Homo sapiens: one gene and its partners. The protein of the gene in region 6 purifies or fractionates together with the protein of the main gene of each other region. This does not show direct contact. Each region holds a gene or a part of one and is shown on either strand. Other genes may lie near its edges.

Region 1 (4,382 bases), on a different chromosome or scaffold from region 6:
TGATCTGCCTGCCTTGACCTCCCAAAGTACTGGGATTACAGGCGTCAGCCACCGTGCTCAGCCTATAATGTATTTTTACTCCAACAAACAACCTGCCTTATCCCCATTTCCCAAAGATTTAAATCATTCAAAAAGTACCCTTTCTTCTCCAGGTTGCTCCTAAGAATTGGATTTAAAATCTGTAGTAAAAAAAAAAGGTTTTTTTTTTTTTTGTGAGACAGAGTCCTGCTCTGTCACTCAGGCTAGAGTGCAGTGGCGCGATCTCAGCTCACTGCAGCCTCTGCCACCCAGGTTCAAATGATTCTCCTGCCTCAGCCTCCCAAGTAGCTGGGATTGTAGGCATGCACCCCCATGCCCAGCTAATTTTTGTATTTTTAGTGGGCATAGGGTTTCACCATATTGGCCATGCTGGCCTCCCAAAGTACTGGGATAACAGGCATGAGCCACCGCACCTGGCTAAACACAAAGGTGTTAATGTACTTATTGAAATGCACATGATATCTCACTGCACCGTGAACATCATGTGGAAGATACCAGTGCTCTATCAGGCATTCATGTCTCAATTTACAAAAAGCCAATAAAAACAATGTTGAAAAAATCCATTAACTGTTTTCTATTATACTCCACACAAAATAATACTAAATACTAGTCATGAGTATTTTTGTTAGATGGGCAACTAGGACAGAAAGTGGGTTATAGCTGAGGCTGACTGAACTGGCACCAGGAAGAAACAATGCTCAAGATATAACTAGTGGCTAGGCGCGGTGGCTCACACCTGTAATCCCAGCACTTTGGGAGACCTAGGCGGGCGGATTACCTAAGGTCGGGAGTTTAAGACCAGCTTGACCAATATGGAGAAACCCTGTCTCTACTAAAAATACAAAATTAGCAGGGCATGGTAGCACATGCCTGTAATCCTAGCTACTTGGGAGGCTGAGGCAGGAGAATCGCTTGAACCCAGGAGGCAGAGGTTGTGGTGAGCTGAGATTGCGCCATTGCACTCCAGCCTGGGCAACAAGAGCGAAACTCCGTCTAAAAAAAAAAGCTATAACTAGTAACAGTTACCCAACTAAGTAAATAAAACCAAGAAAATGGAATAAACAGGAAGAACACTGTGTCACAGATGACACAGCTCTATCTGTGTAAGAGAAAGGAAAGGATCTAGTCCACTTCTTCCTTTAGCATCAAAAGAGAAGACAGAAGACAAACTCAAAGAAAGAACAGAAATGGTAGCCAGAAAGCAGAATGCAGAAAGTAGAAATTGGCTTTGTCTCATCCCTTCGGTCTGTGTGGTGGCTGTGAAAGTGGTTGAATAAGAAAACAGGCCAGGTGCAGTAGCTCACATCTGTAATCCCAGCACTTTGAGAGGCCGAGGCAGGAGGATGGCTTGAAGCCAAGTCTACCCTGGCCAATGTGGCAAAAGCCCTTCTAAAAAAAAAAAAAAACAAAAAACTAAAAACAACAGAATTAGATTTCAGAACTGGTTCTGAAATCTAATTCTCTACACTATGCCCAAATGATCAAAACGATCTTTCTGAAATGTAAATTTGATCTTGAAAAGAAAAAAAAATTACAAGAATAAACTTGTAAACAAACAATTAGCATTCTATGATATACTACCTCATCTGTCTACTAAAAAATAATCAACAGTTTATCGGCCAGGCACAGTGGCTGACGCCCATAATCCCAGCACTCTGGGAGGCTGAGGTGAGTGGATCACCTGAGGTCAGCAGTTCGAGACCAGCTGGGCCAACATGGCAAAACCCCATCTCTACTAAAAATATAAAACTAGCCAGGTGTGGTGGTACATGCCTGTAGTCCCAGCTACTCGGGAGGCTGAGGCACGAGGACTGCTTGAACCCGGGAGGTGGAAGTTGCAGTGAGCCGAGATCACGCTACTGCACTCCAGCCTGGGTGACAGAGTGAGACTCCATCTCAAAAAATAATAATAATAATAATTAACAGTTTATTAAATTCTTCCTGCCTTTCTCTGCAAAAAATTATTTTATCCTATTTTCCTGATGAGATCTTTGGGAGCTCTTCCCAAAGCCTTCTCTGACATCTCTATCAAAAAGACCAACACTGCCTCCTACTGCAGCCCTTCCTGAGTACCCCTGGTTGGGGATGCCATCATTCTCTCTTCCAATCTCCACCCTGAACCACATGTGTTTATGTCCAAGTGTAAACTCTCTTAGACCAAACCACCCCAAAGAGGACCTGAATTTGCTTCCTCTGTCTCAGCATCTCTCACAGTTCTATGCATGTACCAAGGCTCAAAACTCATTAAATGAACTGCATGATTCTGAGGGCAAATGGCATGTCTTACATCCCATATGACAGGTTGAATTCTAGTCCCAGTTCTGGCATTCTCTGGCCATGACACTTTGAGCTTGCAAATTCTTATCTTTGGGCCTGTGTCCTCCTCCTGTATAAAATGAGGTTGTTGGAAAAAATGGTCCCTGAGGAAACTTCCAACTTTAAAATGCTATGGTTCTGTAACAGTTAATTTATATCAAAAGGAATACTGGGGATGGGTATCGTGGCTCATGCCTACAATCCCAGCACTTTGCGAGGCCAAGGCAGGAACACTGCTTCAGCTCAGGAGTTCAAGACCAGCCTAGACAACATAGCGAGACCCCATCTCTACAAAACAAACAAAAAAAACAATTAGCTGGGTGAGATGGTGCACACCTGTAGTCCCAGCTACTTGGGAAGCTGAGGCGAGAGGATCACTTGAGCCCAGGAGTTTGAGGAGGCAGTGAGCTGTGATCATACCACTGCACTCCAACACGGGTGACAGAGCAAGACCCTGTCTCAAAAAAAAAGTAAAACTGGAGTGGCGGGGAACAAAGAATTGCCTAGAACTTAACTGGTATAGCAGATGGACTGAAGATACAGGTAAACACTTTAAGGAATGCACATATCTCAGTATGGCTTTGTTCAAGGCAACTGGACAATTCCTTGGAAAACTCCCAAATGATACCTAAGAATTGACTGAGGACTCCACGGAATTGGAGCAAGACTCCTGTCCAGCTAAATAAGCAGGGCAGTGATAAGCTGCAGAGACCCAGTTTATTTATGTGCTCCTCAGTGTCTACCACTGTGTGCCACGTCCCCCACCAGGTGTGAGAGACACAGCAGTGAGCAAGCCAGGCATGGCCCCCGCTCTGTGAAGCTGATATTCTTCTTCCGGCCACCAGGCCACTTGTGGGTGGACAGAGATTCCTGTAGACTTTCACCCCTCCTCACTTCTGTGCTTGGGAACATGATCTTCCCCTTCCCCCACTGCCTTCTCTGGGTTCTGCTCTTTACCCGGCTTAACTCCTAATTACCCTCCTGGAGATGCCACTTCTCAGGTGGTCCTGGCTTCATTAGGGCCCCAGTTCTCAGTCCCAATGCTGCACACTGCTCTTCTGTAACACTGGTTATGGCTGTGATTTATTTACTTGTGTGATTTCATTTCTGGGTTCCCCTCTGTACTGGGAAATCCAGAAGGCCAGCATCTGATACACCTTTCTGGTTAAGTCCCACAGTGCAGTCTGCAAAGGGAGCAACCATCCTGGATTTAGGGGGTAAAAAAAAGGTACAGGCCTTACCTGTTCTTTGTCTGTAGCAACATCACCTATGACTAAGACCTGGTATGTTGGGAATCAGGAGGCTGTAGAGTAGATCTCATACTTAGTAACTGCTATTTCTACTGGCCACCAAGCCATCAACAGCCCAGCAAAGCTAAAATATTAGGCTGCTGTAGCCCAGTTGATAAGAAGCCCAGAGTGAATGGCAGACACCAAGTGCAGCTGATACATGAGATTCCAGACCTAGATTTCACTGCAGCACGAGAGCCTCAAACTAAGCTTTGCTTTTTTTTTTCACTCTCTGGCTCTTGGAAGGAAAGAACAACTCATGCTGCTTTGGGGAATTCCACAAGGGTTCAGAATCAGCATACTAAAAAAGGACTTGGTCTCAGAATGCCGATTCCCTGAACTTAGGAAAGGGAAGGAGAAAAAGGACCTCTTGAATAAAGTCAAATACTTGGAATGGTTCATTTCTGCTGGTGGCTCTTTTTAATTCTGGAAGGGTTGCAATGGGCTTGTACACAGAGGGGTTCGGCCCCTGCACTCACGTGGTATCGTCCCAGCGCTGTAGACACTGGCTGTGGAAGCTGTGGTTACATAACGTTGTGAGGATGCCATTCACAGACTCGTCCATGCGCTCCAGACACACCGTGCACTTGGGGAGTTCAGTCAGGTCCATCACTGGGAGGCTGGCGCCCTACAGGAAACACCTCACATAAGCCTCACTCTTCATCTACCAGCAATACTTTATTTTTCCTTCTTTTTTCTGAGACAGGGTCTCGCTCTCTGTCACCCACGCTGGAGCCC
Region 2 (3,412 bases), on a different chromosome or scaffold from region 6:
AAAATTGCTTTTTTCTTGACAACTATTCAGAAGTATATGTATGATAAACATTTTTTGAGTGCCTAGTACCTACTAGTCTTACATATTCTGTGGATTACTCCACATAAAATCTATAATAAAATCCACAGAAAGCTGTTAAAATCTTTCCTATTTTTTTTTGACTCAACTTTCCATTCCCTGAAATCACTCACAAGCTGAGTTTGTTAATAGGCTCTCAATATTTTATTTCTTATATTCTGGCCTTGTTTTTAGTATTTCTTAAGGTGATTTTAATAATAATTAATTGTATATGTTTTACTGTACTAGACTTAGTAAAACATAAGAAAGACGTATAACATAGTTGAACAACTTTAAGTTGCTCTAAGAAGTTTCCTATGTGAGGCTGGGTGCCATGGCTCACGCTTATAATCCCAGCACTTTGGGAGACCGAGATGGGCGTATCACTTGAGATCAGGAGTTCAAGACCAGCCTGGCCAACCAACCCCATCTCTACTAAAATACAAACATTAGCCGGGCATGGTGGCACATGCCTGTAATCCCAGCTACTCAGGAGGCTGAGGAAGGAGAATTGCTTGAACACAAAGGTGGAGGTTGCAGTGAGCCAAGATCGCACCACTGCACTCCAGCCTGGGTGACAGAGCGAGACTCCAGCTCTCAAAACAAAAAAAAACAAACAAAAAAAAAAACAAAAAGTCTCCTATGTGAGTTAGAACAAAGGATTGACATCTTTGACAATAATTAGACTGGCATAAGACTACCACATGTTATAAAGTGCTAAACTGCATATCATAGAATAAATGATCCGAGAGTTTAGATGAGGCAAATAACAGAGTAATCAAAAATGGCTTCAGGTAGTCGGTAAAATTTGAACAGGTAGAATCAGCTAGGAAAAAGATATTCCATATAGAGTGAATATCCTAGGCAAATGCAGAGAATGAGGAGGGAGTTTGTAAAGGACAGAGTGATTTGTAGGCCTCTTATCTCACACTCTTGAAACTGATTTTGGGGGTCTACCCTCAGTGCAGTGTTCAGAAATAAGCATTTTTTAAAAGTTACCTGTCTTATCTGCACAATGAATTTTCAGAATTATCCTGCTAGGTGATGGAAGGTTTAGACATTTTCCTGTGTCAAATCTGCCCAACTGTCATTGTTGTTGCTGAACTCCTAAATGTCTTTATTGGTGATGGGTATGGGAAGGATGGGCGTGAAGTCCCCTAATCTGAGATTGTGTTATTTTAGTCCCTGATGCTTCCTGCGTTGATGAAGTTGTATAGGAATTTTTCCACCATACATGATACATGATCATATCTAAGATGTCAGCATGTTCATAAAGAGGATTATTTTTGTAAAACTATTAAAAGTTTTGCTTTTCTCGAGCACTTTCTCATCTTTGAATTCAAATTATTCTCTTTTAAAGCATCATTCTTTGTTTTATACTAAAAATTACCAGATAATTGCTGTTAAAACCTACTTGGTATTTCATACAACATCAAGTTATTGCTACATATTTGGGTTTAATTTTTCAAGGTAAAAGTTCTTATTGAAAGCCTTTTATGTTTTGCTGTTCTCCTTTCCCTACTGTGAAATACTTGTCTCTGATACAAGTAGATTCTTTGTGACCTCTTCCTGGCAATAGTGCCCTGCGTAAATGAGGACCATTTGCATCTATCTATCTTTTTGCTCTGTTCAAACATGTTTAGTGCAGACTCCAAAGTCAGATTACTTGGGTTCATTGGTTTAGGCTAAGTAATTTATTTTTTTTTTTGAGACGAGAGTCTCGTTCTGTCACCCAGGCTGGAGGGCAGTGGCGCGATCTCGGCTCGTTGCAACCTCTGCCTTGCGGGTTCAAGCGATTCTTTTGCCTCGGCCTCCCAAGTAGCTGGGATTACAGGCCCAGGCCACCACACCTGGCTATTTTTGTATTTTTAGTAGGGACAGGGTTACGCCATGTTGGCCGGGCTGGTCTCAAACTCCCGACCTCAGGTGATCCACCTGCCTTGGCCTCCCAAAATGCTGGGATTACAGGCATGAGCCACCACGTCCCACCTTGGCTAAGTAATTTATAACTATCTCACCTGTCTTTCCCCATCTACTAAGTGGAGAAAGTAAGAATACCTGCTTTGTTAAGATTATTGGTAGTTTGAGTAAAATAGTATATGGAAACCACTATGTGTGGGACATAGTAGTTGATACTCATAGTTTTTTAGTTATTACTGATCACTGGGACTGTTTGGCATCTAGTGTCTTTTTAGGTATCATTTTTACCATCTCTTTTCATATTTTATTCCAACAAAGGCTATGGATAGGACTAGTGTAGACGTGGAATCACTAGACTTGGCACTGTGATTTTTTGTTGTTGTTGAGATGGAGTCTTGCTCTGTCACCCAGGCTGGAGTGCAGTAATGCGATCTGGGCTCACTGCAGCCTCCGCCTCCCAGGTTCAAGTGATTCTCCTGCCTCAGCCTCCCGAGTAGCTGGGACTACAGGCACACGCCACCACTCTCAGCTAATTTTTTGTATTTTAAGTAGAGACGGGGGTTTCACTATGTTGGCTAGGCTGGTCTTGAACTCCTGACCTCAAGTGATCTGCCTGCCTTGGCCTCCCAAAGTGCTGGGATTACAGGCGTGAGTCACCGTGCCCAGTCTTTTTATATCATTTTAAGTTTATTAAAACATTAAGTAGAATGTTCAAAGTGGACATTATTTTAGAACCATTTTTTGTTTAACCCTCCTTAACTATATTTCTAAAACTGAACAGTCATATTTTTTATTTTCCTGAAAGTATTACTTATTCAGGTTCTTGGTAGTGCCTCAGATCCTAATTTTGAATATGGGTTGAGTGAGATAATTATGTAAAAGTGCTGTGTCACCTGTAAAGAACCAAATAAATGTAATTTGTTGAATTTTAGATGTTGGAAGTATGGAAGATTCCATGTTTATTCTGATTCCATAATATGTTTGGTTTTCCGATTGATTTATTATTTACCTTTCTTATAATGAAGTTGGGTATGGGAATGGAGAAGGTAGTAAACAGTTATGGCTAATCAAGATTTATTAGTGTGAGCATCTTTGTCTTTTTTTATTTCCCCTTGTTGGTTGAATAAGCTAACTCAGTATGAGTAGATTTTTAGAAGTGGTTATTTAAATTCATATTAATAATTGAGTAGTTCTCTTATCTAAGTCAGGTGTTGGCAAACTGTTGCCGATAGGCCAAATCTGGCCGGTAGCCTGTACAACCAGCAAGCTATGGATGGTTTTTACATTCTAAAAAGAAAAGAACTGCCACAAAGATTGCATGGACCTGCAGTACCCCAGATAGTCACCATCTGGCCCCTATTCTAAGCCATTTAAAATTTAGATAATACATTTCTTTCACTTTTTAAAGCTGTTATCTATGTATTATTTTTTATAT
Region 3 (4,059 bases), on a different chromosome or scaffold from region 6:
GACTGTCACTTACAGAAATGAGACTGCACCCTAGGGCGTCTGATTACTATTATGACAATGAACTTCTCCATTCTATCACTCGCCAGTTTACTCAAGAAAAAAATAGGGCTAAACTCCCAAGGAAATAATTCTGCAGAAGCAAGAAGCTATATGCTCAGGACTCTTCATTGCACTGATGAAGTAGGGAATTTACATGTTAAACAGGAAATGGTCAATTGTATTGATTTGGCATGATGAACGTGATTACAATTATGGAAAATGATGATTTAGGCTGGGCATGGTGGCTCACGCCTGTAATCCCAGCATTTTGTGAGGCCCAGGCGGGCAGATCACAAGGTCAGGAGATCGAGACCATCCTGGCTAACACGGTGAAACCCCGTCTCTACTAAAAATACAAAAAAAAAAAAAGAAAGAAAATTAGCTGGGCATGGTGGCAGGCGCCTGTAGTCCCAGCTACTCAGGAGGTTGAGGCAGGAGAATGGCGTGAACCTGGGACGTGGAGCTTGCAGTGAGCCGAGATCACGCCACTGCACTCCAGCCTGGGCGACAGAGACAGACTCCGTCTCAAAAAAAAAAAAAGAAAAGAAAATGATGATTTAAAGGCTATGTAGAAACATGTACTGGACATTTTCTGCGTTAAGTGGAGAAAAGTAGAGTACAAAATCAGAGACAGTATAGTGTCAGTCACCCCTGAGTGTGAATTCCAGCTCTGCCCCTTATTAGCTCCATGGCCTTAAGGAAGTCATTCAACTACTCTGAACCTCAATTTTATTGTCTCCAAAAGAATAGTAGTAGTATGTATCTTACAGGATTGTTGTGAAGCTAAATAAAAATGAATGTGAGAATAATGTCTGCCATATAGAAATGTTCAATGTTAACCACTGCTGCTATCATAATTATACCATAAATTCAATTACAAATGTGCTGAACAAGGATTGGAAAGTGATAGGCAAAAATGAAAACAACTACAATGGTAAGAGGAAGAGATTATAAATATGTGTGCTTTTTAATTTCTCTAAAATGTTACATCATTTTCCAATAAAGAAAAAAGCATTTTAAGTAGGAACCCAAAAAAATCCCATACTTGGGACCTGCGTCCTAGTCTCAACTTTTTCCTCCAGGGGCCCAAGGCTTCCTGTGCCCAGTTCCTAAGGCTCCGGTGGCATCTGTTGGAGAAGGTGAACAGTATCCTGAACCCCTTAGTCAGGAGGACACATTCTAGAATCTAGAAGGTGCTGTCTTGGTCAGATCAGACCCTGAGAGAACAGCTGTAGCTACCAATTGAATCAGATTCATTCATTCATGCAGCATTCACTCATTCATCCATATACTTTTTGAATCACTGTTATATGCAAGGAACTTTTAAAGAATTACTCTGACCCAATGTATGAATTTGGAATAATCTCCAAAATACTATATAAGAAAGCAAGCTTCAGAACACTGTGTATAGAATTCTACTATTTGTATTAAAAATAGATATATAAATATACATATTTATAAACTTGTAAATGCATAGAATTGCTATGAAAGGATACACAACATATAGATAACAGTGATTAACTCTGGAGAGGGGACTAGAGGCTGACCTCCATGGGGAAGCTTACCATTTATTGTATACCCTTTTGTATTGTGGAATGTCTTACCATGTATATGTATTAATTTTTCAAAACAAAAAAACAAACAAACAAAAAAAGAAACTGCCTGGTGCTGAATATACAGTGGTGAACAGGACAGAGGTTCCCCAGTCTTGGGGAAGGCAAAGTGTTGAGCTTACTGGGCCACAATTATCAAATTTTTTAAAACCAGACTGTTTACATAAGTTAAGGGGAAAGTTCTTTCTACAACAATTAGCTTATAATAATTCAGCATATCATTTTACAGAGATAAAGCAGTTGGAAAATAAATACTAAGTAATTTGTCAAGTCTTAGACTGTATTAAGTTGTAGTTTCTACAAGGGAAGGGATCTTATCTGTTTAACTTGATCAGTAGAGCATTCACTGCAGCATAATGTGCAGATAAACGCTTGTTACAGCAAGCATTTTCTGATGATGACAAATGATAGCACAACCATTTAAAAAAATCTTGAAAAAGAAAAGACCAGAAGATGCTGGACTCTGAGGGAACTGTGTGTTCCCTGTGAGGGTTAGGCAACCTTTTCTAGACAGTCCTCAAAAAATGATGGTGTTCAAATGGCAAGGTAAATCCCAATGAGAATGAAAGGTTGTAGAGATACCACGTTTCGAAATGTCAACGGTGTGATGCTCGAGGCCCTCCTTGGGGTGACAAGGCACAGATGGACTCCAAAGAGAACCTGGCACTTGGCAGGGCACCCCAACTGCATGGGAAGTAGGAAAGCAAATGTCTGGGGGGCTGCAAACCACTGACAAGCTGGCAGCCTGTCAAAGCAGCCTTGGTCACTAACGAGCACAGTGGTTGACAGGCTTGACTCAGCACCATCACTACAGGTAGCCTCTGCACATCGTTTAACCTCTCGGAGCCTCGGTTTCTTCTCCGTAAAATGGAGGACAACTGTGAGATCTTTGTGAGGATTAAAGGAGAGAATCACCAGAAAGTGTTCAGTAAGATGCTAGGCACACAAGGAGGGCTTAAAATGCTATCTTCACTCTTACTAAAGAATGGCTAGGTGTCTGGGCCACTTCATAACTGCTAATCAGCATCCAAGTCCAAACAGCAGACAAAATGTGCTCCACCCTCCATGCCCTAAGGTCAAGTAAAGATTTCCCCACATTCATATAGTGTTTTATAAACTAGAAAATACTTTCACATTCATAAGCTCACAAAAGCCTGTGAAGCCAGTTGGATGGGAATTACTAACTCTATTGTGAAGGAGAGGAGACAGTGAGGTTAAGGGATTTGTTAAGAGCTGGCTAAGGACAGAATCCAGGCCAGGACCCAGGTTTTCCAGGGACTGGCTCAGCATTTTTCCAACTCACGTTCTTCCCAGGAAGGAGATGTATATCTGGGGTCACGACAGGTGGTCAAACCTGCAATTCTACCATCTCTGCCTGCTCTCCAGCTACCACTGTGTCTGAGCAGGAAGGGATCCAGCCAGTCATTTCAAACCCTTCTATCAGCCTCCTCTGGAACCCATTCCTGTGAATGGACCCAGGGTACAGGGATGGCTTCCTGTAACTAGAATTAGGCATGGGACAACAGCTACGGCAGGTCTAGGTCTGGCTTTGCAGGTAGCTGGAAACAGGCCTGGGTTGCCCCACTGCCAGCTGGGGAGGCAGGGAAGTGGCAGCCTTGCCAGGAAGAGCAATTATTAAAAGGGTGCAGACAGCGAGAGTCTCTCTGAAAGTGAGGCAACCTTTCCCACTGCCATTAGCATTTCCACTAAAAACTTGGCATTTGATAGAGGGGAAAAAATGTATTTTTTCAACTGTGAAAAGGTCAGGCATATTTATCTGACTTAATAATTTATAATTGATATTTAATGCCTCCTTGAAAGATGACCTCTAAGCACCCGGCCAGCACCCTCTTCCCTTTACTCCACTACATCCTGCTGGGCGCAACCCCATGCCACCTGGGTTAGAGGTCAGACGACACCTCCACACAGCCTGCTCCTCGTGCTTGGGTGGGCCCTGACTCCACCATCAGTGAAAAGACAGCCAGTCTCCCAAGTCTAATCCCAGTTCTGCCACATTTGAGTTCTCTGTGGCAGTAGCGATGCTGTAAGAAATAAGAAACCTCTTGAATGCTATAAGAAAATTATAAAATTCCTCTTCTCCACCCCCTTTTCCCTTTTTACCAGTAAGGGGTTCTCTTATGTTGAAAATCAACTGAAGGAAAGATGAAGGTGCCTAGAAAATTTCGATACGCCCTAAAGCCAATGTCACTAGCCTGGAGATCTTGGAGGTGACTTGACCATTGTGGAGCCGCTCCCCTCACCCCTTCAGAAGGTCTCTAGAGAACTAAGTAGTACAGGGCTCCCGGTTTCCTAACCACAAGCTCCAGAATCTAGAGAAGGCCTTCCTTAGACAGTAGGAAGTATTGTTCTCCCTCAGAGATGGGACAAACAGGGGAAGTCTGGGAAA
Region 4 (4,382 bases), on a different chromosome or scaffold from region 6:
TATAAGAAAGTAGCAATAAGTGGATGGAATGTGAACTTGAGAGACAAGAGGCCTAAGTTCTATTCATCTTTGCTACAAACTAGCCCTGTGAACCTGACCTCTCTAAGGTACCAATACTTTCAACTATAACACAAGGAGAATGAACCATGGATCAAGGATTAAATGTGTTTGACAAAAACTAATGCATTCAAATTTGGAATGCCCAACACTATCATTTTTAAACCCTATGGTAAGAATTCCACTCCACAATATTTCTTAATTCTTTCTCTAGTTTTAATGACTTCTCTTAAGACAATATAACACATTAATTCACCATAACAATTTAAACTTTTAAATGATGCACATTATGCTTTACTTCATAATTGTTACAAGGGAACCTTCTAGTTCCTGTTTTATATGAATTGTTTTATAGTTAAATCACTCACATTTTCTTCCCAGTATTAACATAGTTATTAAAAGCTTACTATCTGGATGTGGAGGGCACAGGCTCAAATCTCAACATCATCACTTATTAGCTATGTGACCTTGGGCAAGTAATTTAACCTGTCTGTGTACCTATCTCGTAACATGGGTTGTAAAAATTAAAGGAGTTAATGCATGTAACATGCTTACAACAGTGCACTGTATATAAATCATCCAACTTGTGTTAGCTATTGTGACGTGATTTCTCAACTTCATAAACTCAACCCTTCAAAAATATTGCATTTAGAACATTATTTACATGAAAAGATAATCATTTTTAACTCATTGAGGGCATTATCCAAAATAAGTGTAGCTTTAAATGTGGCTCTAATTTTAGGACATGTAAACAACAACAAAAAAAGGACATTTACCAAAACTTAAGAGAAAATATTGCAGTTAGCCATGAATCTTTCAAAAACGTTTCAAACAGGTGAGATTCAAGGCAAATTTCAAACGCAACAGACACATGAGAACAAACTAACTGACAATATGAAAACATAGCTGGAAAGACCATTATAATCTGTTGGTTTACCTGGAAGTGGAATTGGCATGCCAGGAAGGGGAACACGAAACGGAGGTACCATTACTGGTGGAAAAGCAGGTATTGCTGTTGTTGGCTGAGGTACTGAATGAGGAACAGCAGGAGGTAACGTCTGAGGGTGCGGCTGGGGAACGGTTTGCACAGGTGTGGCTGTAGGAGCAGGAGTTGAAACACTAACTGTAGGCGTGGCAACTGAAACAGCAGAACTTGGGGTCTGATCTTGTGTTGTGGGTGCTGATAAAAGATAAAACAAAAACATGTATCACTCCTTCATAAATCATTTTACTATATTCATTCATCATTTACACATTCAGTAATTTAAGTATTTAAGGGACCATTCTATGCACTGCAAGAAATTTGTCAAAAGGTCTTATCTTCAAGAAGCTTGAAAATACTTAAATGAAATACAAAAATGAATACAAAGTAAAATGGGATAAACATATAGGAGTAAAAATCAAGACCCAAAGAACATTTCTAACTGTGAGAGGGTATAGAAAAGTTTATATTGGGATGCTGCGCCTTGAAAAATTAAGATTTCAACAAGAAAAACAGCAGGAAGGGGTAGAAGAAAAAAATAAACCAGTGAGAAAAGTATGAATAAGGCAAAGAGTAAAGAACCAAAAGGAATTGTTTAGAAAATTGAAGGCAAGCAATTAATGAGTGAAACAGTAGGCATACCAACAAAACTAGTGAGTTGTGTGGCTGGAAAGGTAGGCCAGAAGCAGAAATTAGAAAGCCTTGAACAAAAGGCTAAGGAGTATGCCCTTAAATGGATAGGAAAAGGGCAGAACTTAGGTAAATATAGAGAAAATTATCTAGTAGAATACAAGACAAAATACATTAATGGTAGTTACCCTCTGTGAATGCCTCTTTCACATTTTACTATTAATATATACGTTTTGTTAGACTTTGAACTTTTTATAAGAATGCATTCACATTATTTATGTGATTTCATGAAGGTAAATGGGTATATAGCAAACTAAAGGTTCCTGTATGGAAGAGTAATAAACAGGTTTCATTTGATGAATTAACCTCACAGATGCATAGGAAGAAAAGAACAGAAAAAGATAAGCAAATAACTAATGACTAACTGGATATGAATGAATGGAATCAAAAACAACTCAGGTTTCTCTCATTATTTTAAAAAAATAAAATTTTTTTAAACTGAGGTTTCCATTGTGAGAGACCAGGAAAATGTGAAATTCAGGATCATTTGGGTTCTGCTAACACATTATTTTTAAATATCGAAAATAAAACATCCCATTCCTAGTAATTGCATTTAAAATCAAACTAAAAACTAAAATCCTTATTTCATACTTTTCAGTTTCAATTCTCACATGTTACAAAACAATTTTGTTATTTATTCATAACCCATCTAGTTCCAAAATAAAATTCATTTTGGTAATTCATTGGTAACAAATACTTCATCTTTTTTTGATGTAAAGAAAAAAATGTCTACCTGTATCGGACTAAGAATGAATTTGTCAAATGAAATAAAATGAAAACAGTGCTTTCCCAATCTTTATGCCAACTTTGTTCTAAACAAAAGCACACTATTTAATACAAATCACCCAATAATCCAACTGACAACAAAATCTGTCAGTATCTTTTTCTAGCTTCTAATAATGAAAAACTCACTTAGGCTGGGAAGATGTGAGCAATTTCGTACTTGTTAATGAGGGACTCACCTTGGCTAAATAGACAGCAGGGCCAAACAAGTATCTTCAGGGGCCCAGGAATGAATTGTTGGTCTAGCATAGACCTAGCCTTAGGGTACAGTATCATATTAATATAATTTTATAACAGTGTGAAAAATACAAAGTACATGCAACATTTGCCCAGTCCCATACATATACCATTTAGCATTTGTAATCTACTATACTGGCTGAAAATGTATCTGGTCATTGTTCCCAACTTCCCTGAGAAGTAGGATTTCTTCATCATTTTTCACAAACTTGCACAAAATGAGTTTATGCTCAACTGGGATTAAAATATATTCTTAATTTTTAGTCCCATTTACCCCACAGATCTATACTGTAGCTCAGAAAATTAAAATTTAAATATTATTATAGTATTCAGATAATTGCTAAAATTGTGATCCAAAGTACTATAGTCAGGAAAATAAATAAGGGCATCAAATTTCAAGTGGAAAAGAACACCAATGGAGATGACAAAAAATATTTACAACCCATTCCTCTTACTTTCCAGCACAGCATTTTCTGAATTTGATTAGCAGCCATGAGTCACGACAGGAAAAGAACAAAAGCAATAAAATAATGGGAAACTGGGAGAATGGTATCTAAGACTTCAGTGGGTAAATTCCCACTAACTTCATTTGCTAAAGTAGCTAGTGAAGCACTAGGCCTCAAAATATACTAACCCAGCCTCAGATCTTAACTAAAAAAGACAAGTGACTATATATAATAGATGGAGAAATATTAAGATTGCAGTAAGACAACACTTTATGATACTAAATCAAGTAAAATAAAAACACACACTGGAATACGTAGACAACATCAAAATTGATGTTTAAAAGCAGTAAAAAGAATATGATTTTGCTATATTATATTTCTGGGAATAAAGTCCTCCCAATCACTGAAGAGTAAAGCAAAACTGACAAACAGGACACAAGACAGCTATGAGCTTACTGACACACTACTCTGAAAACAGACATGGACTATATATAGTATGGTTAAATTATCTAGCTCATCACCTTTCCTAAAACAAAACGAAGCACTACTATTTCTCCTTTCTAAGAACGCAGGAAAGAAAATGTAAGCAACACAGAGCCTCCACATAAAACTACATTGCTTTTATTAATCCCCTTCTCCCATTACTACCACAGGTCTCCCATAAAAACTGGTAGTCTCCTGCCTTGCCACAGAGGTTTGGGAAGCACTAAACCTATAAAAAGGTAACAACCCTTAACAGACTAGCTAGTATGACTGTTATACTTTCATATCAAAATTCACCTTCACTACAAAAGCAAACAGATTTGTAAAACACTATTCATATTTTCCTGTTCAGTACATTCCCCCGCTACAAAATGTCTAAAAACCATTAAGAGGATCTTTAAAGGCTATCCCCATATTATATGTACCTTACTTGACTGCTTCAGTTGCTTTTTATCAATAAAATAAATTCAAATTTGAAGCCAATGTGAATTAATTTCTCTCTTATACGTATTTCTTACACACTAATAATTCCCAAGTCCCTGAAGTAATCACAAAAAAACCCCACATTTTTTCTTTATTCTTATCAATTATCCTGGTAGTAAAATAATACAAATTATAATCACACTGTAGGGACAGCTGTGTATCTTGAGACAAGTGCCATAACAAATAATCAAATAAAAAAATCATTATTTAAGTACTTTCGG
Region 5 (4,382 bases), on a different chromosome or scaffold from region 6:
TGAAAATGAAGAGAAAATAGGAGCATAAGGGCTATTACAGAGACAGAATTTGCAGGTCTAGCCCCCTGTATAAGCTGGCGGAGAGGGAGACAGTGAAGGGGTCAAGAAGGAATCAAATGACTGAGGTTTCCAACCTAAGTGACTGGGGTAGGGAGTTATGCTGTTAACTGAGTTGCAGAATGAAGGGGGTGGTATAGGTTTTGGAAGTCTGGGGAAAGGAAATGCGAAGCTTACTTTGGACTGGACTAAGTTTAAGGTGCATATGGGGGACCCAGGTGATCCCTGCTAGTCACATGGAATATGAGACTGGAGCTTCAAAGAAGGGGTTGAGAGTGATAGTCGAAAGTTATGAAATTTTCACTCCTGTAATCCCAGCATTCTGGGAGGCCGAGGTGGGCGGATCACGAGGTCAGGAGATCGAGACCATCCTGGCTAACACGGTGAAACCCCGTCTCTACTAAAAAATACAAAAAATTAGCTGGGCGTGGTGGCGGGCACCTGTAGTCCCAGCTACTTGGGAGGCTGAGGCAGGAGAATGGCGTGAACCCGGGAGGTGGAGCTTGCAGTGAGCCGAGATTGCACCACTGCACTCCAGCCTGGGCGACAGAGCAAGACTCCGTCTCAAAAAAAAAAAAAAAAAAAAGTCATGGAATTTACAGAGCAAGAATAAAAAGGACTAAGGAAAGCCAGAGAGAGAAAATACCCAGAGTATATCACAGAAGCTAGAGGGGAGAGATTTTTAGAATGAAATGTGCCAATGGTGTCAAATATGCTAAAGACTAAGAGGGCTTGGGATTTGGCAATTCGGAGGCCCCTCACTAATGCCTTTTGAGAGAAGTTTCAGTAGGGCAGTAGGGGAAGAAGGTGAGAGAGAGGAGGCAGCAGTGGAGACAGACCAGCTCTTCCCCAAACACATTTCTCATCAGATAACAAGATTTGCCTCCCCTGTTAAAAGCTTAAAATTCAATTTTTTTGAAATTTTAATAAAATCAGTTTGTACACCCTAAGTTAAATTAGATCCAACAGGTGTCTTCACCATTGTTTCATAGCCTTTTTTTTTTTTTTTTTTTGAGACAGAGTCTCGCTCTGTCGCCCAGGCTGGAGTGCAGTGGCACGATCTTGGTTCACTGCAAGCTCCGCCTCCCAGGTTCATGCCATTCTCCTGCCTCAGCCTCCCAAGTAGCTGGGACTATAGGCGCCCGCCACCGTGCCCAGCTAATTTTTTATATTTTTAGTAGAGACGGGGTTTCACCGTGTTAGCCAGGATGGTCTCGATCTCCTGACCTTGTGATCCACCCACCTCAGCCTCCCAAAGTGCTGGGATTACAGGCGTGAGCCACCACGCCCGGCCCATAGCCTTTATTTTTATTTTTTATTTTTGAGACAGAGTCTCACTCTGTTGCCCAGGTTGGAGTACAGTGGCCCAACCTTGGCTTACTGCAACCTCCGCCTCCTGGGTTCAAGCGATTCTGGTGCCTCAGCCTCTTGAGTAGCTGGGATTACAGGCATAAGCCACCACGTCCAGCTAATTTTTTAATATTTTTTAGTAGAGACGATGTTTTGCCACGTTGGTCAGGCTGGTCTCAAACTCCTAACCTCAGGTGATCCACCCGCCTTAGCCTTCCAAAGTGCTGGGATTACAGGCGTGAGCCACCACATCCGTCTGGCCTGTTTCATAGACTTTAAAATGCTAAAGCATGTTGTGACTCTCCGATCTCCAGTAGGGGCATGCAGCATTTTCTAGCAATGCCTCCTCTCCTCCTCTTGTGAAGGCATAATGAGAGACTAAGGTTTCAAGGAGAATGCCTTGGGAAATACCACTGTAGACAGAGAATAGTGAGGAGAGGGGTGAAAGAAGTTACCTCACAGCATTTCTAGCACTTTGCAGTTTACAAATGCCTTCTCATGCATTATCCCACTTAATTATTTGCAGCTAAACAAAATTTTAGGGAGCTGGACCAAAACTATAGTACAGACTTTCGATTTTCTTTTCTTTTTTTTGGGGGAGGGCGGGGAAAGAGTAGAGGGTTTTTTTTTTTCCTCAGGCTGGAGTGCAGTGGCGTGATCTCGGCTCACTGTACCTTCTGCCTCCTGGATTCAAGAAATTCCCCTGCCTCAGCCTCCTCAGCAGCTGAGACTACAGGCATGTGCTACCATGCCCGGCTAATTTACATATTTTTAGTAAAGACGAGGTTTCACCATGTTGGCCAGGCTGGTCTTGAACTCCTGACCTCAGGTGATCCACCTGCCTCAGCCTCCCAAAGTGCTTGGATTATAGGCGTGAGCCACCGTGCCTGGTCTGAGACTTGATATTCAGTTTCTAGAAATCCTAATACAGCATATACTAGTTGTTGGTACTTTGCAATCTAAGTTGTAAGGAGAGACCTAGGAGTTGCTAGCCACAAAGCACCCTCTGAACTAAGCACTTCCTTATTTCTCTGTGCCCTACTAGCATAATTTCTCAAAAGTCAGTCTTAGAATGAATGAACGGCATGGTATATTCAATGTATGACATCTGAGCCTCACTCTATCTTGAAGAGGTTGTTCTATTCTTAGTGTAACCTCCTCCACTACCATCTAGTTTTTATTTTTTATTTATTTATATATATATTTTGAGACAGAGTCTCATTCTATTGCACAGGCTGGAGTGCAGTGGCACAATCTCGGCTCACTGCAACCTCCGCCTCCCAGGTTCAAGTGATCCTCCTGCCTCAGCCCCCCTAGTAGCTGGGATTACAGGCACACACCACCATGCCCCGCTAATTTTTGTATTTTTAGTAGAGATGGGGTTTCGCCATGTTGGCCAGGATGGTCTCAAACTCCTGACCTCAGGTGATCCACCTGCCTCGGCCTCCCAAAGTGCTGGGATTACAGGCGTGAGCCACCACACCCGGCCCCATCTCGTTTTTAATAACAAACTTGGCATTTTCCTGCTATCTCCAAGATTACACTGTCATTTGGAAAAAGCAAGGTGGAGGACAGTGTGTAGTAGCATGCTACCCTTCTTTTTATTTAAAAAGGAGGTAAACATGAATATAGAAATAAAACTCTAAGACAACAACAACAGCAAACTTATGCAAGTGGTTACTTCTGGGTGAGTATGGGGGTAAAAATGATCAGATGGGGCACGGGTGGAATCAAACTTTTCACTACATATCTTCTATGCTTTTTTATTTTTGAATCCTACAAATTGTATTACCTCTGATTTTTTTTTTCTAAAGTCTCCCTTCATCCTGCAGCCACACTTTAAACCTGATCTCTTTTTCATGTAGAAAAGGAAGCCTCCTAGAAAGAGAATGGTAGTGACTTCAGCAAAAACATCAGAAACAGCTTATCCCCATAATAAGCAACTACTCGCTCAATTTCTAGCTATTGTGGCAAGCAATGTTTACTTTGATTAGCTTTAATTAGCTCAACTTCCCAACGCCTAAGAAACTACCATTCTTGGGTTTTTGGAAAGTAAAGAGGAGAAGCACAAAGAGGGCATCTATTTAAGACTAATCAGCCCATTATAGACTCCATACCAATGGTGTATTGGAAAAGTAGGCTAGCTGTTCTAAAGCAGTTATTCGGACTAAAAACCGGACTTCAGGGACCAACATAGGATTTCCAACTTCTAATTTTGCCAAGAGCATAACTACCATTTCACCCCCAATCCCATCATTTACTACCACCATCATTTCATAGAAGAAAAGATATTTCAACACCATTAAAATAGAATAACCTCATAATAAAAAAGAACTGGCAACATTACACCCACCAAACAAACATACTTAGAATTATCCTTTTGCTTCAGACACAAACTTTGTTAGGGGTCAGTGTTTGGGAAACCCAGCTCTAAAACATCAACCCCTGCCCTGCAGCTCAGAGTCATAGTAAGTTACCTGCTGAAGTTCTAGTCATTGCCAGCAACACATTATATTTTAATGCGGTATTCCTGTACAAGCAAAGTTTGGCTTCTGTTGTTCACATATCCTCACTAAGGCATCATTAATGTTATCGAGTTCCTGATTTCCCTAGGATCAGAATGTGGCTTTAAATGCTTTTTAAAAACTGGGGTAAAAGAAAGAAAACATTATTATGTTCCTGCTATACGGGCAATCACATGGTTTAACACAAAAACATGGAAATAGCAAGTACTGTATACTACAAGCAGATGAAAAGTGACACAGAGACCGGGCGCATTGGCTCATGCCCGTAATCACAAAACTTTTGGGAGACTGAGGTGGGCGGATCATTTGAGGTCAGGAGTTTGAGATCAGCCTGGCCAACATGGTGAAACCCCATCTCTACTAAAAATCCAAAAAAAAAAAAATTAGCTGGGCGTGTTGGTGCACGCCAGTAATCCCAGCTACTTGGGAGGCTGAGGCAGGAGAATTGCT
Region 6 (4,382 bases):
GAAAACTCCTAATTTCTAGTAATTCTTTTAATTGATGACAAAATGTTAGAAATACTAAGCTTGAGAAAAAACTGATTTAACAAAACTAATGCGAGAGGGGTGACGTGTGAAGTAAACTATTACTGAAGAAGTTAGTTTTTGGTTCAAACATTCAGTGTTCAGAGTAAGTACAGAATAATTCAATAATGTGATATAGAAGGTAGTTACTAATAAAATATCCCCACATTCACCTTTAAATCATTAGATGAAATTCAGAGAACTAGTTAGTGGAAAGGTAGAAACCTTATACTCTAGCAAAATCGCCCTCCTGCAGTCCCCCAAAACCCTGCTTTCACCAATTACTTTGAAGATATACAGCTGATATACAGCCTTCCCCTCCTTTTTACTGTAACTTAAAAAAAAAAATTCTGTTCCTGATTCTCAAAAGTTATCAGACTTAAAAAACCCTGTACTTAGTTGTCTAATTTCCAAATGAAGCTTTTTTTCTACTTACACAGCCCTCTGTGACCCTTGTCCTGGAAACGTTACACATAACTGAGCATTCACTTATCAAACATTGTCACGACTGTGCACCTTATACTTTTTGCTACTGTCTTATGTAACTGAAACTCCAAATTCTCTAGACGGAAGAAGTATTTTATATTACATTTCCGTGTCCTTCAACAGACTGTAGCACAACTACAAACACAGTGGGTATTTAATAACTCACAGAAGATGCCTTAATTTAGAGTGATCCAATAATACAGCATGAGAAGGCACTTACAAGTACATTATATAAAGCAACAGGTAAAAAAAAAAATCCTCAACAGTTTTTAAGGTAAGAAAATATATGTAGTACCTTCCATCTTTTCTATCTCTTTGCCACCTATCCCTCAGGCCTGATTCAGCATTTCCTTCTGTACTTACATTTGGTTTCATTTTCATGCTTAAAAATTTAGTTTTTAAGAAAATTTTCACCACCCCAAAAACTCCCTACCCTTTAGTTATCACTCTAATCCTCCCTATCTCCCCAGCAATCAGTAATCTACTTGGTATCTTTATAGATTTGCCTATTCTGGGCATTTCATATAAAAGGAATCACGCAATACACGGCCTTTCATGGATGTTTGCAAGTTTCATCCATACTGTAGCATGTATCAACCTTATTTATCACTGAAAAATATTCAATTGTATAGATATACCATTCTGTTTATCCATTTGTTAATGGATAGTTAACTTTTTGGCTATTATGAAATAATGCCACAAACATTCACATAAAAGTTTTTCTGTGAAAATGTTTTCATTTTCCCCCAGGGGTACAACTGGTGGGTCAAAAACCTCTATGTTTAACATTTTTAGGAAATGCCAGACTGTTTTCTAAAACACCTGTACCAGTTTATATTCATACTAGCAATGCACAGGGTTCTAATTTCTCCACATCCTAATCAACACTTACTATCATCTGTCAGGCTCAGCTATCATCTGTCTTTTTGATTTATAACCATCCTAGTGACTGTGACATATCTCACTGTGGTCTGGTTTGTATTTCCTTGGTGACTAATGATGTTGAACAGATTTTATGTACTTACTAGATATTTGCATATCTCCTTTGGAGTAATGGCTACAGATTCTTTGCCATTTTTAAATTGGGTTGCCTGTCTATTGCTGAGTTCTAAGAGTTCTTAATAGAGAATATATAAAGAATTTTCTAACTAGCACTCTAGGTTTTTACTTTCTTGATAGTATCCTTTGAAATACAAATGTTTTAACTTTTGGTGAATTCCAAAATTTTCTTTTCTTCTGTTGCTTATGCTTTTGAAGTCATATCTAGGAAACCACCAAGCTCATGGTCTTAAAGATTCACTTTTGTTTCTTTCTAAAGGTTTTATAGTTTTGGCTCTTACATTTAGGTCTTTTATACATTTCAGTTATTTTTTTTTATATGGCATGAACCTTCTCCTAGTGAATTTAAGTAATGTTGATGAATAAAACAAGCACTGCAGCAAAACATGTGAATGAGATCTGAAAAATGGAATGAAGTCCAGCCCTTACTATCATATAAATCCCAAATTAAGTATGAAAATGTGCTTTTTGTGCAGTAAGGTCTGCAACATTTCAATTTTCACTGACAGCTTAAAGATAGAATTAGTCTAAGAATGACACAAACCAGAACCTGCATTGCTTCCCATTAATTCAACAGTCATTAAAAGGGATAGAAAAATTCTCAAGTACTAACATGCAGATGATAAATATAGCTTACTATAATAAGCTTACTTAATGGAACAATTCAGTATGGTTTAGCCATTAAAACTTAAACTATAAAGAGAAAAACTCACCTCTCTTGAATTCCATGTTACTTCAAATATACTCTAGACCATAAAATATTAAGTAAAAAGAAAAATAAACTACATTATTCTTCACAAATTGCCTTTTAAAAACTTTAAATAACAGCAAAATGTAACTTTTTTCAACACTGAAATACTTATGTTCTGGAAAAGACTTCATACTGACAGCGTACTGATACTGTTAGAAGCAAAGTTAAAAAAATAATTGCCAAGAATTCACAATGCCACCTTACCTGCTTGCACTTCTAGAACGTCTGGCTGTGCTGTAACTTTTTGGTGGTGTTTTAGAACGTTTCTTTTCTTTGTCTTCTTTCTTTTTGTCTCTAACAAATGAACACAATTTATGAATGCATTAGAAGACTCAGCTGATGCCAATTTATATAGCACTACAAACACAAAAATATAATCAGATCTAATCCCATCCTTAAAAGCATAAATGTTGTTCTGACAGAAACTGTTTTAAAAATAATACTTTATGTGGCATATTTGAAGTACAATAACTTCTTTTAAAATCCTATTATCCTAGGTTTTCTCCCAAGTAGACTAAAGTAGACTATGGGTGAGAAAATAACTAGGATGTTGGCTTGAAATATACTTGGTAAACACCAATAAGTTAACTATCTCTAGGCTCCTCAAGACTCCTTTTTCTCTCAGCTGATTACCACTTTCCCAACCCACCTCTCCTATCAGGCCAAAACCCATAGAGCACTACCAAAATCCATCAATATCATGAATATTCTTCCAAGACACACATCCCATGTCAACCTCTATCATGGATCAAGCAAGCTTCTTTTTCTGCGGCTATTATGAACTATTCAGGGCTTATTAGAAAATATCAACAGATTTTGACTACAGCCGTAACTCAATTTTTTTTTTTTACAGATTCCTATAAATTTTTACTCCTCACAATATTTTTTCCCCAAGATCATCATTCTCCCCAAGACTCTAAGCAAAGAGTAGATAAACGATATATATTTGTTGAATGAGAAGTCTCATAACAACCCCCCTCTTTAACTATTCTCTAATTTTAAGAATCAAAGTATCCCTCTCTTACTGTTCTAAGCTAATCTTTCCATTCTGCATTCTCAATTTCATTTTTTTCCCTTCTCTGGTCATCCTCGGTTCCCTCTTCATTCAATCTTTATCATTGGTTCCCTCTTCATTTGAATCTTTATCATCTAACTCCTAGATTACTAGAACAGTCCCCTAGTAGGTCCCAGTCATGCCTTCCATAAACTGATTCTGTACTCTGTCAGAAATCTTTTAAAGTACAAACCTGAAAATATTAATTCCCTGTTCACCATTTTCAACTCATTCCAGTTGCCTCCTGGATCAAGTGCATAGTGTGAACAACAAAGCCTTCCACGATCGGTCTCATTATATTTTTCTGACCTCATTTTCTAGTCCAACTACATCAAAATATTGTTATTTCAAGAAACACCATTCTCCACCTGAAAGCATGCCTCCCGTTGAGTCTAGTCAAATCTTTCAGAATTTAATACTCGAGTCATTCTCAAACCTCTTCCAATATCAGCAAGTAGCAATCATCATTTAACAGTTCCTCCCCTGTAATTAAATCCATCACTCTTCTCCTAGTAATCAGAAAGTCCTTAAAGAAATGCTTAATTCCTTTGTATAACTGTTCTATTAATCTACCTTGTTTGATTCACTCTGCAGCACATAAGGACTAAAAGCCCCATTATTACAGGTTTAACAATGATAGTAAAGCTACCCCCACTCTTCTGTTCTCATCAGTTGAGTTTTATGCTTCCCAAGAGTAAGTTATGTTGTGTCCCCAGCTGTACTTACTTTAATGACATGATTTAACTAAATATATAAATGAACAAAATAATGCCAAATATAGAGTTGCTTCTAGAAAATTAAGATAAATATTTTAGCAAGAGATAAAAAGCAGTTGCTAAAAAAATTAAGTGCTGTGAAATTGTATGCCTCACAACTATAAATGACTGGGGGCATACTAATTTAAAAGTGTTTGGTTCTACACGAAAAGACTGGTTTTTGAATATATTTTTAGATGGAAATAAAACGTTACGGTAT
Region 7 (4,382 bases), about 46 Mb from region 6:
AGGCATAGATAAGCTGACAGAGTGAAAGGGTGACCAGCAGATTATGATAGTCTGTAAAAAGTAATGTTTTCTGAATTGTGACATTTTTATTGTAGTGATAGGTTCATTAAATAAGACATGGCCACTTTTGTTGGCCCCTTAGAGAAGCAGCTAGTGAAAGTAGAGAAGCCTGTAACTGTTCCAGGTTCAGTCCTCAGTTTGAGAGAGGGGCTTCGGGATCACTGTTTTCATAACCTCATGTACCATACTGCTTTTCAGCATTGGGAAAATTTCAGTCCATTTTCAGTTACCATGTCCAAATCTGATGCCCATGGCCCTGGCCTATTTTGTCTTTTCCTGTAAAGTTTGTACTTCTGAATATTTATTCTTTGTCTGGAGCCACAAAGCTCTCCAGGGAAAAAAACAAGTGTTTTTACCTGTTACTTTGCAAAAACACATCAAGTGATGATTTTTTTCTATTTATATCATATAGCCTAAGAGTTGCAAAAGTACCTGAACAGAGGGACCAATCCTTGTTAAAATAGGTTGATTGTTAAGAATTATTAGGTACTTTTAAAAAGCATCTGCACAGATGCTAATTTCTTGTGTTTTGGCATATACTTTTTGCAAACAAGACAAGAGTGGATATGTACATAGGAAAGAAGTAAGCCATGGTGAAAATAAGTATTTCTGTGGGTTTTGGGACAGGGCTTCCGTGTTCAAACAACCTACCCAAAGAGAGGCACTACAGGCAGTGTAGTCAGTCTCCCCTGTGACCACTGGAGCTGAATATTGGTTTGACCTACTTGGAAATAACCTCTCCCCACCACCCCGCTAAATAGAGCCAGCATCTCACTCTGTCACTCGGGCTGGAGTGCAGTGGCCCAGTCATAGCTCACTGCAGCCTCCAACCCCTGGGATTACAAGTGTGAGCCACCACACCCGGCCCAGACAACCTTTTATATTAAACTGATCCCAGCCCTCTGTGATGAAATTTCAGAGCTAGAAAAGACCTTAACAGTTGTCATCAAGAAACAGATTTTCAGGTTAGTTGACTTGGTCAAGGTCAACCAACTAGGAATAAAACTTGAGTTGTCATTCCCAGTTAAATAGTGAATACTTTTCACAACTTTCCTACCCCAGAACTCTTCTTTGATTGCTAAAGGTGAGAAATGGAGGGCAGGGTTGAAATTCTTTAGCTTCTCTATCTGGTAGTATGATTTCAGAAATTACTTTGCAGTTTCTGCTGCTTAGAACAGTAACATCATTGAAATGTAATAGATATTACAGTTAATATTTTCCCTAGTGGCCACTAATCAGGGCTTTAGGGCTCTGCTCTTGATAGTGGGCAAATGGAGTGGGAGGGAGGCAGGAAAAGTGTTTTGGGGAACTTACAGGTTAATTATTTGGAATACAGTATACAGTCATCTGAAGGGATCTTAGGGGAAACATTTGTAATTACTGACATTTCATAAATTGGCATTATCTTAGTACATAAAATAGTGCTTGAAATCAGTGGCACAGTCAGCGAAGTATGTTAACATGATCAATACTGGTGGTGACGGTGTGGTAATTTTGATTTATTTAGATTAGCTTGGCCACATACATTGTGCTATCTGGACACTTAAATGGTTATTTTACTATTGTTGGTCACAGAGTAACTTATCTTTATAAGTGATCTTTTGGGCAGGTCTAAGATTAATAATTAATAGGACTGTTGGAGTAAATTTAAAATTGTGGTTTTAAAGTTGCCTTCTACGATTTCTGACTTCATGCTAGAATGATTTTGTCCCTTGAATACTTAAAACAACATTAACATAAAGTAAATGGTGTAAAGTCTCATCTAGAAAAATAGAAATCTGAAGTGCTGTTATAATATTAATAATGCTGTGATTCAATTGTATTAAACCAGAGTAGGAGTATATAAATGATAGTTGTTTGATGGTATAAATTTTTTTTTTTTTTTTTTTGGAGACGGAGTCTTGCTCTGTCGCCCAGGCTGGAGTGCAATGGTGCAGTCTTGGCTCACTGCAACCTCTGCCTCCCAGGTTCAAGCAATTCTCCTGCCTCAGCCTCACGAGTAGCTGGGATTACAGGCACATGCCACCACACCCAGCTAATACAAATGTATTAATAAAGACTACTTTAGCTGAGTAATTAGTGAGAAATTGAATCAGGATGCAACTCCAGATGTGTATTTCCACTGGGGGAGAATGGAAATAATGTTAAATTCACTTGTATTATATAATGAGTAGGCTTTTGCCAACTATCTTGTAAGCATAACCACATTTTTAATGTTTCTTAGGGGAAAATGTATCCAAACAATCAGCTTCCAAAGCAAGCTTGGGAACCCAGTTCTCTAAGGTGTGGTAACTTGGACATGCACTTTTTAACGACGTGCCCATAATATCTTTGCAGAAATTGAGGATTAAGTAACACTTAAAAATAGAGAATATGGACTTAGAAAAAGAGCCTCAAATAGTTAACAATTTTAAAATATTTTTATTTCTTTGAATTTGTTAAAATATAAGTATTAAGTATAGTTTGCTATTTGCACTGTCATGATTCCTGATATCTAATTGAGTGATAGCCATTCTTTACCCAATCCAGTGATTTGTCCAAATGGCTTATTACGTAGAAATTTTAAGAAAAGTCGCTGGGCGCGGTGGCTCACGCCTGTAATCCCAGCACTTTGGGAGGCAGAGGTGGGTGGATCACCCGAGGTTGGGAGTTCAAGACCCGCGTGACCAACATGGAGAAACCCTGTCTCTACTAAAAATACAAAATTAGCCGGGCGTGGTTGGCGCATGCCTGTAATCCCAGCTACTCAGGTGGCTGAGGCAGGAGAATCCCTTGAACCCGGGAGGCGGAGGTTGCAGTGAGCCGAGATCATGCCATTGCACTCCAGCCTAGGCAACAAGAGCGAAACTCTGTCTCAAAAAAAAAAAAAGAGAGAGAAAGGGAAAAGTCTGTTCATTGAAAAGGCATACTGGTAAATTCTTCATTTTGACTTCTTTAGCAAAGATGCGATTACTGTGTTAGATCACTGGTTCTCTAATTACTGCCCCTTGGAATAAACCATTACAGAATTCTGAATGTGAGTGTCTGTTAAATGAGATGTATCTGTATTCTGAGTCAAACATTCCATGGCAATTGCTTTAATCACACAAAACAGGTATCAGGATCCTGAGAGGATCAAATTGTCTGTAGGTTTATTTCTTATTGGGATGTTCTCAAGTGGTGTTTTAGGTTAATTTATGGTATATATATGTTTATATGTGAATATACTTATGATTTTAGTTGTAGCAATGGATAGATACTATAAGCAGAGTTAGTTGTTGAGATTAAAACCCATGGCCTAAAAATAGATTCTTGGATTCACATCTTAGCTCACTTAAATTGTCTTTGTGACTGAGGTGAAGTTGCTTCTTTTTAAGCCTCAGGTTTCCTCTCTTGTGAAATGGAACAGGGAGAAAGGGATGTGATACTACTGTGTTAATAGTGTGTCTAATACAGCAGGCTTACAAAAGGTAGTTACCATATTTCTATGTTATTGGTAAAAGACAATTGGATAATTCATAGGATACCCACTGCTCTCCTACTACTTGAGGTATAGAAATGCCTTTTTTTCTTTCTAGCTCTTTGGAAAGAATCCTCGTCTTTGTATTTAATCATTTTTACTATTTGTGGCGGTCTGCTTTTTTTCATGGGTAGTTTAAATCCCCTGTGCTATTGTGAAGATTATGCTCTACATAAAGAACCTTTAACCTGTTGGGCAGTCATTCTTCTTTTCTAGACCAAATATCTTTGTGAAAGTTTCATGAGATCTTATTTCTTAATCATTTATCATCTTTTACTTTTCTGAACCCACCTATTGTGGTTGCTTAAAAGCTTTCATGTTGATGAAGTCTCTGAAGTTGAGTGTGAGGGAGTGAGTGTGGGTGTGGAGGGTGTGTATTTTAGATTGTGGAGCTCGTGTAGCACACAGAGGTTTACTTTACTGAGCTTGTTCTACTCAGTAGCAGCTCCCAATTTCCTTTAACTGTTGGTTTTCTTGGGAGAATCTCAAGATTTGAAAATCATTGTAGAACTTTTTGAGGCTTTTCATTAAACATTTAAAAATTCTTGTCTCACTTCAGATAATGTTCAGATATGACAACAAGGTCTTACAGGAATTTTTTAAGTCTTCATAAATTCTTTTTGAGAGTAGTCACACCCATTTTTGTAATAGCAGGAAGGCATCTTGGCTGGGCACAGTGGCTTGTGCCTGTAATCCCAACACTTTGGGAGGCTCAGGCAGGAGGATTGCTTGAGGTCAGGAGTTCAAGACTAGCCTGACTAATATAGTGAGACCCCATCTTTATTTAAAAATAATAATAAATTTTTAAAAATTAAAAGAAAAG

The links.
Region 1: the proteins of SRSF11 (region 6) and BRAP fractionate together in Homo sapiens (co-fractionation; one large-scale study listed by BioGRID). This does not show direct contact.
Region 2: the proteins of SRSF11 (region 6) and LUC7L2 fractionate together in Homo sapiens (co-fractionation; one large-scale study listed by BioGRID). This does not show direct contact.
Region 3: the proteins of SRSF11 (region 6) and ZNF592 fractionate together in Homo sapiens (co-fractionation; one large-scale study listed by BioGRID). This does not show direct contact.
Region 4: the proteins of SRSF11 (region 6) and TCERG1 fractionate together in Homo sapiens (co-fractionation; one large-scale study listed by BioGRID). This does not show direct contact.
Region 5: the proteins of SRSF11 (region 6) and UTP14A fractionate together in Homo sapiens (co-fractionation; one large-scale study listed by BioGRID). This does not show direct contact.
Region 7: the proteins of SRSF11 (region 6) and SRRM1 purify together in Homo sapiens (affinity purification with mass spectrometry; one large-scale study listed by BioGRID and IntAct). This does not show direct contact.

Annotation. Positions count from the first base shown.
Region 1 is NC_000012.12:111,661,516-111,665,897, forward strand, and holds part of BRAP (BRCA1-associated protein), read right to left. Parts: intron 4,273-4,382; coding exon 4,124-4,272; intron 1-4,123. UniProt on the Homo sapiens protein: Negatively regulates MAP kinase activation by limiting the formation of Raf/MEK complexes probably by inactivation of the KSR1 scaffold protein.
Region 2 is NC_000007.14:139,418,456-139,421,867, forward strand, and holds part of LUC7L2 (putative RNA-binding protein Luc7-like 2), read left to right. Parts: intron 1-3,412. UniProt on the Homo sapiens protein: May bind to RNA via its Arg/Ser-rich domain.
Region 3 is NC_000015.10:84,803,361-84,807,419, reverse strand, and holds the end of ZNF592 (zinc finger protein 592), read right to left. Parts: 3' UTR 975-4,059; downstream 1-974.
Region 4 is NC_000005.10:146,460,406-146,464,787, reverse strand, and holds part of TCERG1 (transcription elongation regulator 1), read right to left. Parts: intron 2,771-4,382; exon of another isoform or gene 2,692-2,770; intron 1,238-2,691; coding exon 995-1,237; intron 1-994. UniProt on the Homo sapiens protein: Transcription factor that binds RNA polymerase II and inhibits the elongation of transcripts from target promoters. Regulates transcription elongation in a TATA box-dependent manner.
Region 5 is NC_000023.11:129,912,213-129,916,594, reverse strand, and holds part of UTP14A (U3 small nucleolar RNA-associated protein 14 homolog A), read right to left. Parts: intron 4,017-4,382; exon of another isoform or gene 3,904-4,016; coding exon of another isoform or gene 3,885-3,903; intron 3,286-3,884; coding exon of another isoform or gene 3,200-3,285; intron 1-3,199. UniProt on the Homo sapiens protein: May be required for ribosome biogenesis.
Region 6 is NC_000001.11:70,245,083-70,249,464, reverse strand, and holds part of SRSF11 (serine/arginine-rich splicing factor 11), read right to left. Parts: intron 2,648-4,382; coding exon 2,558-2,647; intron 2,349-2,557; coding exon of another isoform or gene 2,333-2,348; exon of another isoform or gene 2,316-2,332; intron 1-2,315. UniProt on the Homo sapiens protein: May function in pre-mRNA splicing.
Region 7 is NC_000001.11:24,656,279-24,660,660, forward strand, and holds part of SRRM1 (serine/arginine repetitive matrix protein 1), read left to right. Parts: intron 1-4,382. UniProt on the Homo sapiens protein: Part of pre- and post-splicing multiprotein mRNP complexes. As a component of the minor spliceosome, involved in the splicing of U12-type introns in pre-mRNAs. Involved in numerous pre-mRNA processing events.